2 separate regions of the Homo sapiens genome follow, and region 1 is linked to region 2. A link means that fine-mapping ties the variant in region 2 to the expression of a gene that starts in the linked region. Tissue or cell type: aorta. Region 2 holds a variant in brackets; the other region holds the start of a gene. All regions are shown on one strand. Distances are between the middles of the regions.

Region 1 (5,365 bases), 430 kb after region 2:
CTGTAAAATTCAGATGTACACAGTCATGCAACCACTACACCATGAAGATAGAGTATTTCAATCACTCCAAAAAGTTCTTTCATGCCCAAATACATAGAAAAGTCTGGAAATAAATACATCAGAAATACACAGTGATCCTCTCTTGGTGGCAGAATGGTGGATGATTTTTGCTTTTTAGCATTTTCCCGGACCTTTAAAAGACACTTTAAACAATATACTATTTGAAATGGCTCAAACAATACTGAACTGACTTCAGAAAATCATTTCTTTGCCACAGCCCTGACTCTCTCCCACACAGACACACGCCCATCCCCCCAGCTCATACAAAAGAACGCAAGGAGACCTCTGAGTTTGCTCACTTTGAACCTTAAACAAAAACCTTGTGGATGCAACCAGAATTATTTCAGAGGTGCCTGGTAACACCGCAGGGCAGACAGACAGGCCTGACAGCAAACCATTATCAACCCTTACTTCCCTGAGCTGTAGGGGAGTGGAGGCCGGCAACGGCTCCCAGCAAGACATTTAAAAGCTTTCTTTTCAATATTGACTGGCCCAGGAAAGCTACTGTTCAAAGGATTCCTTCACCAGCTGCAGGGATGGGGGGTGGGGAGGGTGTTGCACTCTTGCCTGGGCTACCAGCTCTTAGGGCTGACATGAAATAAAATCAGGTTCTTTTTTTTTTTTTTTTTTTTTTTTTGAGACGGAGTCTCGCTCTGTCGCCCAGGCTGGAGTGCAATGGCAGGATCTCAGCTTACTGCAACCTCCGCCTCCCAGGTTCAAGCGATTCATCTGCCTCAGCCTCCCAAGTAACTGGGATTACAGGCGCCTGCCACCACGCCCAGCTAACTTTTGGTATTTTTAGTAGAGATGGGGGTGGTTCACTATGTTGTCCAGGCTGTTCTCGAACTCTTGACCTCAGGCAATCCACCCGCCTCGGCCTCCCAAAGTGGTGGGATTACAGGCGTGAGCCACCGCGACCGGCCAAGAAAAAGAAACACATGAGAACATCTTAACAAAAGGGAAATACTGCAGTGTCTCCCATCTGCAGAAAGAACCACTGAATCCACTTATGAATCCCTCCATCTTCTTCTGTGCACTCACATACACATGTCCTAGTAGAAAATACTTAGTATTGTTTTGTGTGTTTTTGTTCTTGTTATGTAAGCATCAGTGTTGTGCATAATCAGCTTGTGGCTTGCTGTGTCCGCTCATCCTCGTTTGCTGAGTCCTAGCTGATTTGATGGACACCAGGTTGTCTCCAGTTTCTCACTGTAATAAACAATGATGCAGTGAACATCCTGTGCACAGTGGCTTTCGAAGGTAGAAGCCAAGAAGTGGACGTGATGTAAAAACTTTGTCAAATTGCCATTACTTTTATAATTAAAAACAAACCTAAAAGAATATGTCCAAAATGCTTGGGGAGAAGCCTCTAACTCCTTCCCAGCAGATATGTACTCTGGGCAAAGCCTTCAAGAACAAGTACGAATTTGCCAAATGGACAACGTGCTGATTCTGGGATACTGTGGCAGAGGAGACAGAATGCTATCGCTTTTCAAACGGCAAGATTTTACATTTAAACTCACAGAGTTATCCACAAGGCAAGATTCTGTCTCTGTCATAGCTAGGAACAGCTGAAGAGTCTGCCTCTTGCTCCAACATGGCTGGGTACCGTGGCTGGATAACCGTTCCCGGTGCAGGTAACAGGTGGACAATATCACAATATCACTGCACCCCTCTCGTGAAAAAGAAAGGGAACACAGTCTAGCACTCACCAGAGAAGCAGGTTTTTCTTCATCTTCCAGAAATGTGTTCTAAAACACCAGAAAAAAACATCAGCCAATCATCGACCTGTTAACCTAACCCCAGCTCAAGAGATGGAACTCGGATCCCATTGCCAAGTCAGCACCGGCAGGCACAAAGGTGGCAGGGCCGGGAGACACCACTTTCCCGAGAGTCCTATCCCCACCCCCAACAGGGATCGGGAGAGAGCAGTTAGCACAGGGCTCGTCTCAGATGGGCTTCTCACCAGCGGGGTGCCCCTAACCTAGACCCCTTGCCTCTCCAAGCCTGTTTCCCTCTCTTTCCCAGTTACTACTTGGGGCTCTTTGCACGGTCTATGGTGGCACAAGAAGTGGGTTCGGAAACCCAGTAGCTGAATTGAAGCGGAGGGGAGGCTTTTCCGCACCTACGGCTACAGGGCGGCGAGAGCAGGCTTGCCAGGCAACCCTCGAAAGGCCTTCCGGGAAGAGGGGGAAGAGTGACGCTTGGGTGTGGGGGCACATCCCCAGCAACCGGACGAGGCCGCCACCCCCAAGGCCCTCCTGGGCTTCGGATCCCGCGCCAACCCCTCGCCCAGGTCTCGGAGCGAACTCTCCGCGCCAGGCGGGCGGGGCGGAGGGAGGAGGGAGTTGAGAGTGGACGGCCGGGAGTGGGAGGAAAAGCGCAGACGCCAGGAACGCCCCGTGAGTGAGGAGAGGAGAGCGTGGGAGTCACGCGGAGAAGCCAGACCCAGACGCCGACCGGGCACTGGTGGCGCTGCCGGGGTCCCGGGGGTTCCTGGACCCCCTACCCCAGGCCCCTCCAAAGCAACTGGGGTAAACCAGACGCACTGTGAGGCCAGCGCAGCTGCTGGACACGGTCCCCGGCGCCGCTCCAACCAGACCGCGACCGCTAAGCCCCTCCTTTCGAGAAACTCTGGGGCCGCCCCTGGAAGTGGCGGGGCGAAGGGACCGGAGGAGGGACCGGAGGAGCGAGGCGCGCGGCGCAGCGATGGAGCCGGTCAGCACGGGCGCGGAGGCCGGCATGGAGGGCGCGGGAGGTGACCCGTACCGGCGACCTGCGCGGCGCACGCAGTGGCTGCTGAGCGCCCTGGCGCACCACTACGGGCTGGACCGCGGCGTGGAGAACGAGATCGTGGTGCTGGCCACCGGCCTGGACCAGTACCTGCAGGAGGTCTTCCACCACCTGGACTGCCGCGGCGCCGGCCGTCTGCCCCGCGCCGACTTCCGAGCGCTCTGCGCTGTGCTGGGGCTGCGCGCGGAGGGGGCCACCACGGCCGGGCAGGCAGCAGGTGACGGGAACTCCAGAGATGTGACCCCCGGGGATGCGGCCGCTGAGTTGGCCACGGACGGGGACTCAGATACCGATGAAGAGGCGCGCCTGGCGCTGCGCGCCGAGCCGCCGGAGCTCACCTTCCGCCAGTTCCACGCGCGCCTCTGTGGCTACTTCGGCACCCGTGCGGGGCCCCGGCTGCCCCGCGGCGCTCTCAGCGAGCACATCGAGACGCAGATCCGCCTGCGCCGTCCGCGCCGCCGCCGCCGCCCGCCCTGCGCGCCTGGCCCCGACAGCGGTCCTGACTGTGAGCGCGTTGCGCGGCTGGAGGAGGAGAATAGCAGCTTGCGCGAGTTGGTGGAGGACCTGCGCGCCGCGCTGCAGAGCAGTGATGCGCGCTGCCTAGCACTGCAGGTGCGCGCCGGCCACGAAGGGAGGGTGGTAACGCCCGGGAGAGGGCTCGAACTAAAAGCTGGCTGGCTGCGGAGCCCGACAGGACAGAGTCAGAGGAAGGGGAGACAGAGGGCAGCCCCACACCATCCCACTCCGCATCAGCACACTTGCATCTTGCCCCTGTTCCTCCCCATTCCACTCCAGTCCCCAACCCTATTCTTACCACCTATTCCATTCCTGAAAACCCCAATCACACTCAAACAACCATACCCCACTTTTCTGCTCCACCGCCACATCATCGCGTCTTGCCCCTTTAACCTAGGAATTGCACCTGTCTGGGTAGTCTCACATATTCCCTTTCAACAAGCATCTTTCTCTCTCCTTCCTGCCAGGCTTCTGGGAGGTTTAGGAGACAGAAGTGTGAAGAAGGCCCTGTCCTCACCTTTAGGGATATCCCTGCCTCCTGGGGTAGACTGACAGCTCCTTCTGTCAATCAGCAAAGACTTATGGGGCTCCCTGTGGGAGAAACAGAGACAAGTGAGAAACAGACAATGTGGCTCACACTGTGGATCAGGCACTCACGGGCCACCAAGTGCCTGCGGGAACCAGACCCGCTCTGGGCTATTGAGAAGAAACCATGGGGTGAGATAGGGACCCAGCCTTAGCATCTGGGAGCCGTCGACAAACACTTAAGCACTGTGCCAGCCGAGCACCAAGGGCAGTGCTGGGCCGCAGGGGTCAGAGGAGGAAAGGAACAGCCCCTACCCCAGGCGACAACAGGCCAGGAAGAAACTGACATTATATGACCCCGCCTTAGCTCAGGACACTGCAGAGTGCAGGGAAGTGGCAAGGTGTGGTTTTCAGTGTCAGTGTGCATGGAAGCCAGGGTGGAGGCGGGAAACTACTCCTCTGATGTGGAATCCCAAGTAACGTACTGGGAGCCATGGGATGCGCCTGAACGGTCTTCCGGCATCTCTCATGCTTGGTATTTATTGAGCACCTACTATGTGCCAGGTTTGTTTTAGGCTCTGGGAACACACCAGTAAAGACAGATAGAAACCACCCTCAAAAGCCTCTAGTGAGCAGGCACGGGGAGGGCTGGAAATGCCACTGGGGGGAGTCTAGGAGATGAGGAACCGCCACCCGGCAGGCTGAACGCCGCCAATACAGTAGGCCGAGAAGAGTCGCGAGGTTGGTACTATAGAGGGAACAGAATACAGGCGTCGTGTCTCAGTTTCCTTCAGTGAAAAAACGTTGGGGGGTGGGGGATGAGGAGGAATCAGAGCTTGGGCCTCCCTGGGGATGTGGCGAGGGTTAAAGGAGCTTGGACGCACCGGACCTAAGGGCCTGGCACCCGGAAGCAGACGGCGCAAGAAACGTGCTCAAGCGCTTCTGGGTGCAGAGGCATGGGGCCGCCGTCGTGGCGGGCGTTCGTCTGGTGCATCTGGCTGGGGCACTTACCCCCTGCCCCTGCTGCCCTGTCCCCGCAGGTCGGACTCTGGAAGAGCCAGGCGAGCACCCACGAGATGGGGCACGGCGGGCCGGAGGCTGCGGTGCGGGAGCTGCGTCAGGCGCAGGGCGCCCTGGCTGCGGCGGAGGCCCGCGCTGGGCGGCTGCGCCGTGGCCAGGCCGAGGTGCGGCGGCGCGCGGAGGAGGCCCGGCAGGTGGTGCTGCGCAGCCTGCACCGCGTGCGAGAGCTGGAGGCGCTGGCGCAACAGGTGCCCGGCTTGCAGCGCTGGGTGCGGCGGCTGGAGGCGGAGCTGCAACGCTACAGGTGAGCGGGGGCGCGTGCCCTGGGCCCAAGTTCCCCAATTCGGCTCCCATTTTCCCAAACTTCGGGTGTGCAATCCCCCTCCCACGCGCTCTCGTGTTCCGCAGTTTCTCCATGCGTTTATTCATGTATTCTTTCATTCCTTTGTCA
Region 2 (5,365 bases):
GTAAATAAATAGGCATGGTGGTGCACACCTGTGGCCTCCAGCGACTCGGGAGGCCGAGGCGGAAGGATGGCTTGAGCTCAGGAAGTTGAGGCTGCAGCAAGCCATGACTACACCACTACACTCCAGCCTAGGGGCAGATCAAGACCCTGTCTTTAAATAAATAAATAAATAGAAGTGGAGAAGAACCCGACAGGTGCCTCGTGGGGACTCGGATTTGGAAATAGATTGAGATGCTATCTGCAGTCAGCCAGCACAGCCTTGAAGCCTCCTGATAACCAGGGCGACCAGAGAGTAACTTCAGACAGCAGAGAACTACACAGGCAGGTGGAAGCAACCTGAAGAGGAGGTTGGACCACCGCCTCTGCAGCTGGGGCCAATGGGCATGGTCTCCAGACTGCTAGTTCACCAAGAGTTTTTAACTTTAGGAAGTCATTTTCCATGATTATTTGCACCTGCAAAATTCCAGTCCCAATGTTCAGTTTGGTCATGGCCTGAGAGCCATTCGGTGCGACTTTAATGGCCACAGGATACTAAGGAAAGAAAGGTGGATGTCAGATAGAAAGGACGCATTCATGACAAGAGAAGGGCAATGGCACTTGGATGTGTTTTAAGACACTGAGGCTTTGCAGGAGTTCAAACAGAGAAAAGGAGGAGGAAAAGGGAGTTGTCACAGTGGTTACAGAATGTGCCAGATTCCACGGAAGCTGCACTGAGCCCATCAGCACCACATTCCTGTTTCAAGCAAGACAGCATTATTCATTGGCATAGACTAATACCATTCACTTGAATTTTATTCATCTTGTAATTTTGGTTGGATTTAACTTATCTTTCATTTTCATCTTGTTGTAGGAGTAGACAGTACCAATGTTTAGCTTTAGGTGAGCACAGATTGATTGAACGATTGATTGATTGGTTGGCTGACTTTTTAGAGACAGAGTCTTGCTCTGTGGCCCAGGCTGGAGTGCAATGGCTTGGTCTCAGCTTACTGCAGCCTCAACCTCCTAGGCTCAAGCAATCCTCCCACCTCAGCCTCCCAAAGTGCTGGGATTACAGGTAGGAGCTACCATGCCTGGCCTCATTTTATATAATGTTAAAATAAGCCAAAGTCACAATAGCCAAAAGGTGGGAGAAACTCAAGTGTCCATCTACAGATGAATGGATAAATGAATGCAGCCTGTCCCACAATGGACTATTACACAGCCTTAAAAAGGAAGGAGGTTCTGAGCTCTGCTGCCACATCGGTGAACCTGGAGGACATGATGCTGAGTGAAATAAGCCAGGCACACAAAGTCAAGTCCTGCATGATTCTATTCATATAAGATCCCCAGCAGTCACATTCACAGACACAGAGAAGTAGAAGGTGGTTGCCGGGGGCTGGAGGAGGGAGAATGGGGAGTTAGTGTTTAATGGGTGCAGAATTTCAGTTTGGGACAATGAAAAACATTCTGGAGATGAACAGTGGTGAGTGTTGCACAGCAATATGATTGTATCTCATGCCAATGAACTCTATACTTTAAAATGGTTATGGTGGTAAATTTTATTGTTTTGTTTTGTTTTGTTTTGTTTTGTTTTGTTTGAGATGGAGTCTCACTTTTTCGCCCAGGCTCGAATGCAGTGGTGCGATCTCGGCTCACTGCTGCCTCCACCTCCCAGGTTCAACCGATTCTCCTGCCTCAGCCTCCTGAGTAGCTGGGACTACAGGTGTGTGCAGCCACACCCGGCTATTTTTTTGTATTTTTAGTAGAGACAGGGTTTCACCATGTTGGCCAGGATTGTCTGGATCTCCTGACCTCGTGATCCGCCCGCCTCGGCCTCCCAAAGTGCTGGGATTACAGGCGTGAGCCACCACGCCCAGCAATTTTATTGTTATATGTATTTCACCACAATAAAAATAGATATATAAAATAAAGGTATGAAATCAACACTGGGAATGGGTAAAGTTTTTTTCTGTTAAAAGACCTTGGGTGGTCTCAGGCCAAGACAACCGGAACCCTCAGACTCATCCTTCCTCCGAGGAGTCCCCTCCGGGGACTACAGAGAAGACTGCTCTCCCGGCAGCGTCATCTCGGCTGACCTCGCTGGAAAGGCAGCTCTCTGTGGCCAGGTCAAGAGGGCTGGGGAGACCAGGAATCATCCACCCATGATGTTCCTAAAACCTGCCTGCGCATGGCAGCCACCGGGACGGCCTGTCAAAATGAAGATGCCTGGGCCCTGCCCCGGATACTGAGTCACAGTCTCTAAGGGTAAGGAGGCCTGGAATCTACACTTTTAACAAGCTCCCCAGGCACCTCTGAATACCCAACCTGCTAGGGTATCAGGCCGGGCAGCGCAGAGGCCTGGAGGAGCCCAGGTATACAATCCATAGAGCCGACTTCACTACTGCCTGCCACTGCCTGCTGTGTGACTGTGAGCATGTCATTCAGCCTCTCTGGGTCTCAGTTTCAGACCTATGGGTTTGGCACAAAAGCGCTTATGTTGGGAAGGGCTTGTTTTGAGGGTTAGCAATAAGATACATAAAGTGCCTGGTGCATAACAGGTGCTGAATAAATGGTGGCTGCAGTTAGGATTCGAGAGCTGGGAGAGACCCACCCAGCTGGCACTGGCTGAGAGGTGAGCAAGCCGCTCCCGCACAGAGGGCTCCATCCCAAGTGCACATGTGTTTCCTGCAGGGGGAGCACCTTTAACCAGGGA[C/T]GTGGATGTGGCTTGTCACTTTAGCTCTGAAAAATGGGACAGAAGTTGTTGAGGGGAAATCCCTTCTCACAGAAAGCAGAATGGTGCTTTGGGAACCCCCCCTCCTTTTCCCTCTGCCACCCCCAATCTAGAGCTGACTGCACCTCACTCTTATCATCCAAAAGCCTTGCCCCTGACCGCAGGCTAGCCCAGGAAGAGAAGTAAGGCTCACCTGCCAAATCTTGCTGTGTGGCTTTGAGAAAACCACATAACCTCTCTGAGCCTGAGGTCCTTATCTCTCACTAGGGGGAGGAGGGTGACACCCATTCATTCAGGGCATACTGACTGTGATAGACACGTCCTCATCCTCACAGGCCGACAGTCCAGTGGGAAGATCAGGCTTTAGTGAAACCACTGCAAATATCTCATTGCAAAACAAAATAGCTGCCTTAGAAAGTTGTGATCAGGTGGTTTTTCCGACTTTTTTTTTTTTTTTAGCAGCAGAACCCTTCATTCAAATGAAGCCTTACCCAGGACTGGGTCATGGAAAATAGCTGAAAGCAAAGTTGCTCAGAGGCTCTGTGGCTGTCACCAGAGAGCCCGACGGCTTCAAGGAACACAGCTGGAAACCAGAGCTTGATGTCTGGGAGGGAGGGGTGAGGAAAGGCCCACAGTGGCACAGCAGAGTCCTGGCACATTGTGGGCACTGGAGAAGCCATCCCTGCCTGAGCTCGTCATCTCTCTCTCTCTCTCTCACCATGTCAAATGGTAGTGGGTGGGTACAGGGCCCAAACTCGGTCCCCAGACCCCCGAGTGTCTCTGGTGCCAGAGACCCCACAATGCCTAGAAGCTTCCAACCACCCTGGCCCAGGGTGCCTAGGGGCTGAGAGTCTGGGGGTCCCTGGAGGCGGGAGACGCTGAGTCTAGGCAGGCTCGTGCTGGAAACCAGCTCACTGCAGCGGACCACTATCTGATGGAGCGCTTCCTTCATCAGTGCTAATATCCATGTAGCGAAACAATGAAAGGGTTTCCTATCAGTTCCAAATAGGACGTGAAAAACTCTCAGTGCTAAGAGTAGAGGATGCTAGAATAGGGCAATGGGAAACGCCTGAGTCACCGGAGGGCCTCTTTGATTCCGACAGCCCAATCACTGAAAAGGAAAAAGAGAGAGAGAGTGGTTCATTAATGATCCGAGGGAGGGGACAGGAAAGACAGGCCCTTCACAGGGGACCTCCCCAGAGAGCTGAGAGCGGGAGAAGCCCAGCAGTGGGGACACTACCCAGAGAAAGAAACAGAGCTGAGGCTCCACCCGTGCACCCGCCCCACCCAGCCACCCAGCACGTCCACGAGCCACGCGCCAAGGGCAGTTCTGGTTTCCACAGATAAGCATTTAAGGAAGAATGTTCAGGAGTCCTGCTGTATTCTTCACCAGACTTGTCTCAGAGCAGCTGCTCACCCAGGAGCTCCATGGCCACAGGGATGCCCAGGACAGGGACGACTGCTTGCCCACTGCCGTGCTCTGGGGCTCTGGGCAGTCCCTCGGCCTCACCCACTGCTCAGATTTTCTGCAGGAAAAATGGGAGAGCCACCCTTTCAAAGAGTGACCCGGGCCCGGTTCCTCCTCAAAGCCTTTCGGAATGAATCTCCCAGTTCCCCACTGACTGGACATAGAACCTCTGCTCTTTCCTTCTCTAAGGCTGTGCTAGTCCATTATTCATTAAAAGACAAAATGAGGCCGGGTGCAGTGGATCACGCCTGTAATCCCAGCACTTTGGGAGGCCAAGGCGGGCGGATCATGAGGTCAGGAGATCGAGAACATCCTGGCTAACACGGTGAAACCCCATCTCTACTAAAAATACAAAAACAAAATTAGCCGGCTGTGGTGGCGGGTGCCTGTAGTCCCAGCTACTCAGGAGGCTGAGGCAGGAGAATGGCGTGAACCCGGGAGGTGGAGCTTGCAGTGAGCCGAGATCGTGCCACTGCACTCCAGCCTGGGCGACAGAGAGAGACTCTGTCTCAAAAAAAAAAAGACAAAATAATTGTCTTTTAATGACTTTAAAAGACATTGAGGTGGGTGTGGGGCTCATGCCTGTAATCCCAGCAATTTGGGACGCCGAGGTGGGAGGATCACTTGAGCCCAGGAGTTTCAGACCAGCCCAGGCAACGTAGCAAGACCCCATCTCTACAAAAATGTTTAAAACCTAACCAGGAATGGCAGTGCATGCCTGTAGTCCCAGCTACTCAGGAGGCTGAGGTGGGAGGATTGCTTTAGCCCAGGAGGTTGAGGCTGCAGTGAGCTATGATAGCACCACTGCACTCCAATCGGAGTGGCAGAGTGAGACCCCAACTCAAAATAAAATTAAAAGACAAGAGGCCAGGCGCAGTGGCTCATGCCTGTAATCCCAGCACTTTAGGAGACTGAGGTGAGCAGATCGTGAGGTCAGTAGTTCAAGACCCGCCTGGCCAACATGGTGAAACCCCATCTCTACTAAAAATACAAAAATTAGCTGGGCATGGAGGCGCATACCTGTAATCCCAGCTACTCAGGAGGCTGAGGCAGGAGAATTGCTTGAACCGGGAGGCAGAGGTTTCAGTGAGCCAAGATCATGCCACTGCATTCCAGCCTGGGTGACAGAGCAAGACTCCATCTCAAAAAAAATTAAAAGACAAAATGTGGACACACACATGGCCCCAG

Evidence for each region. PIP is the estimated chance that this variant, and not a neighbour inherited with it, causes the effect. A credible set is the group of variants that fine-mapping cannot tell apart.
Region 1: it holds the start of EFCC1, and the variant in region 2 is the best candidate, but not a certain one, in a credible set for the expression of EFCC1 in aorta (GTEx, PIP 0.53).

Annotation. Positions count from the first base shown.
Region 1 is chr3:128,998,860-129,004,224 of GRCh38, forward strand. It overlaps EFCC1 (EF-hand and coiled-coil domain containing 1), which reads left to right and starts at 2,445. Exons shown (of 8, transcript NM_001377500.1): 1 at 2,445-3,465; 2 at 4,935-5,218. The coding sequence starts at 2,770. It also overlaps a transcript of CFAP92 not described here.
Region 2 is chr3:128,570,069-128,575,433 of GRCh38, forward strand. It overlaps LINC01565 (long intergenic non-protein coding RNA 1565), which reads right to left. Exons shown (of 3, transcript NR_125802.1): 2 at 5,198-5,318; 3 at 1,932-4,235. Among named protein-coding and RNA genes, the nearest start is that of LINC01565, 3.3 kb to the right of the region's middle. The variant C/T (reference allele first, on the strand shown) is at 2,692.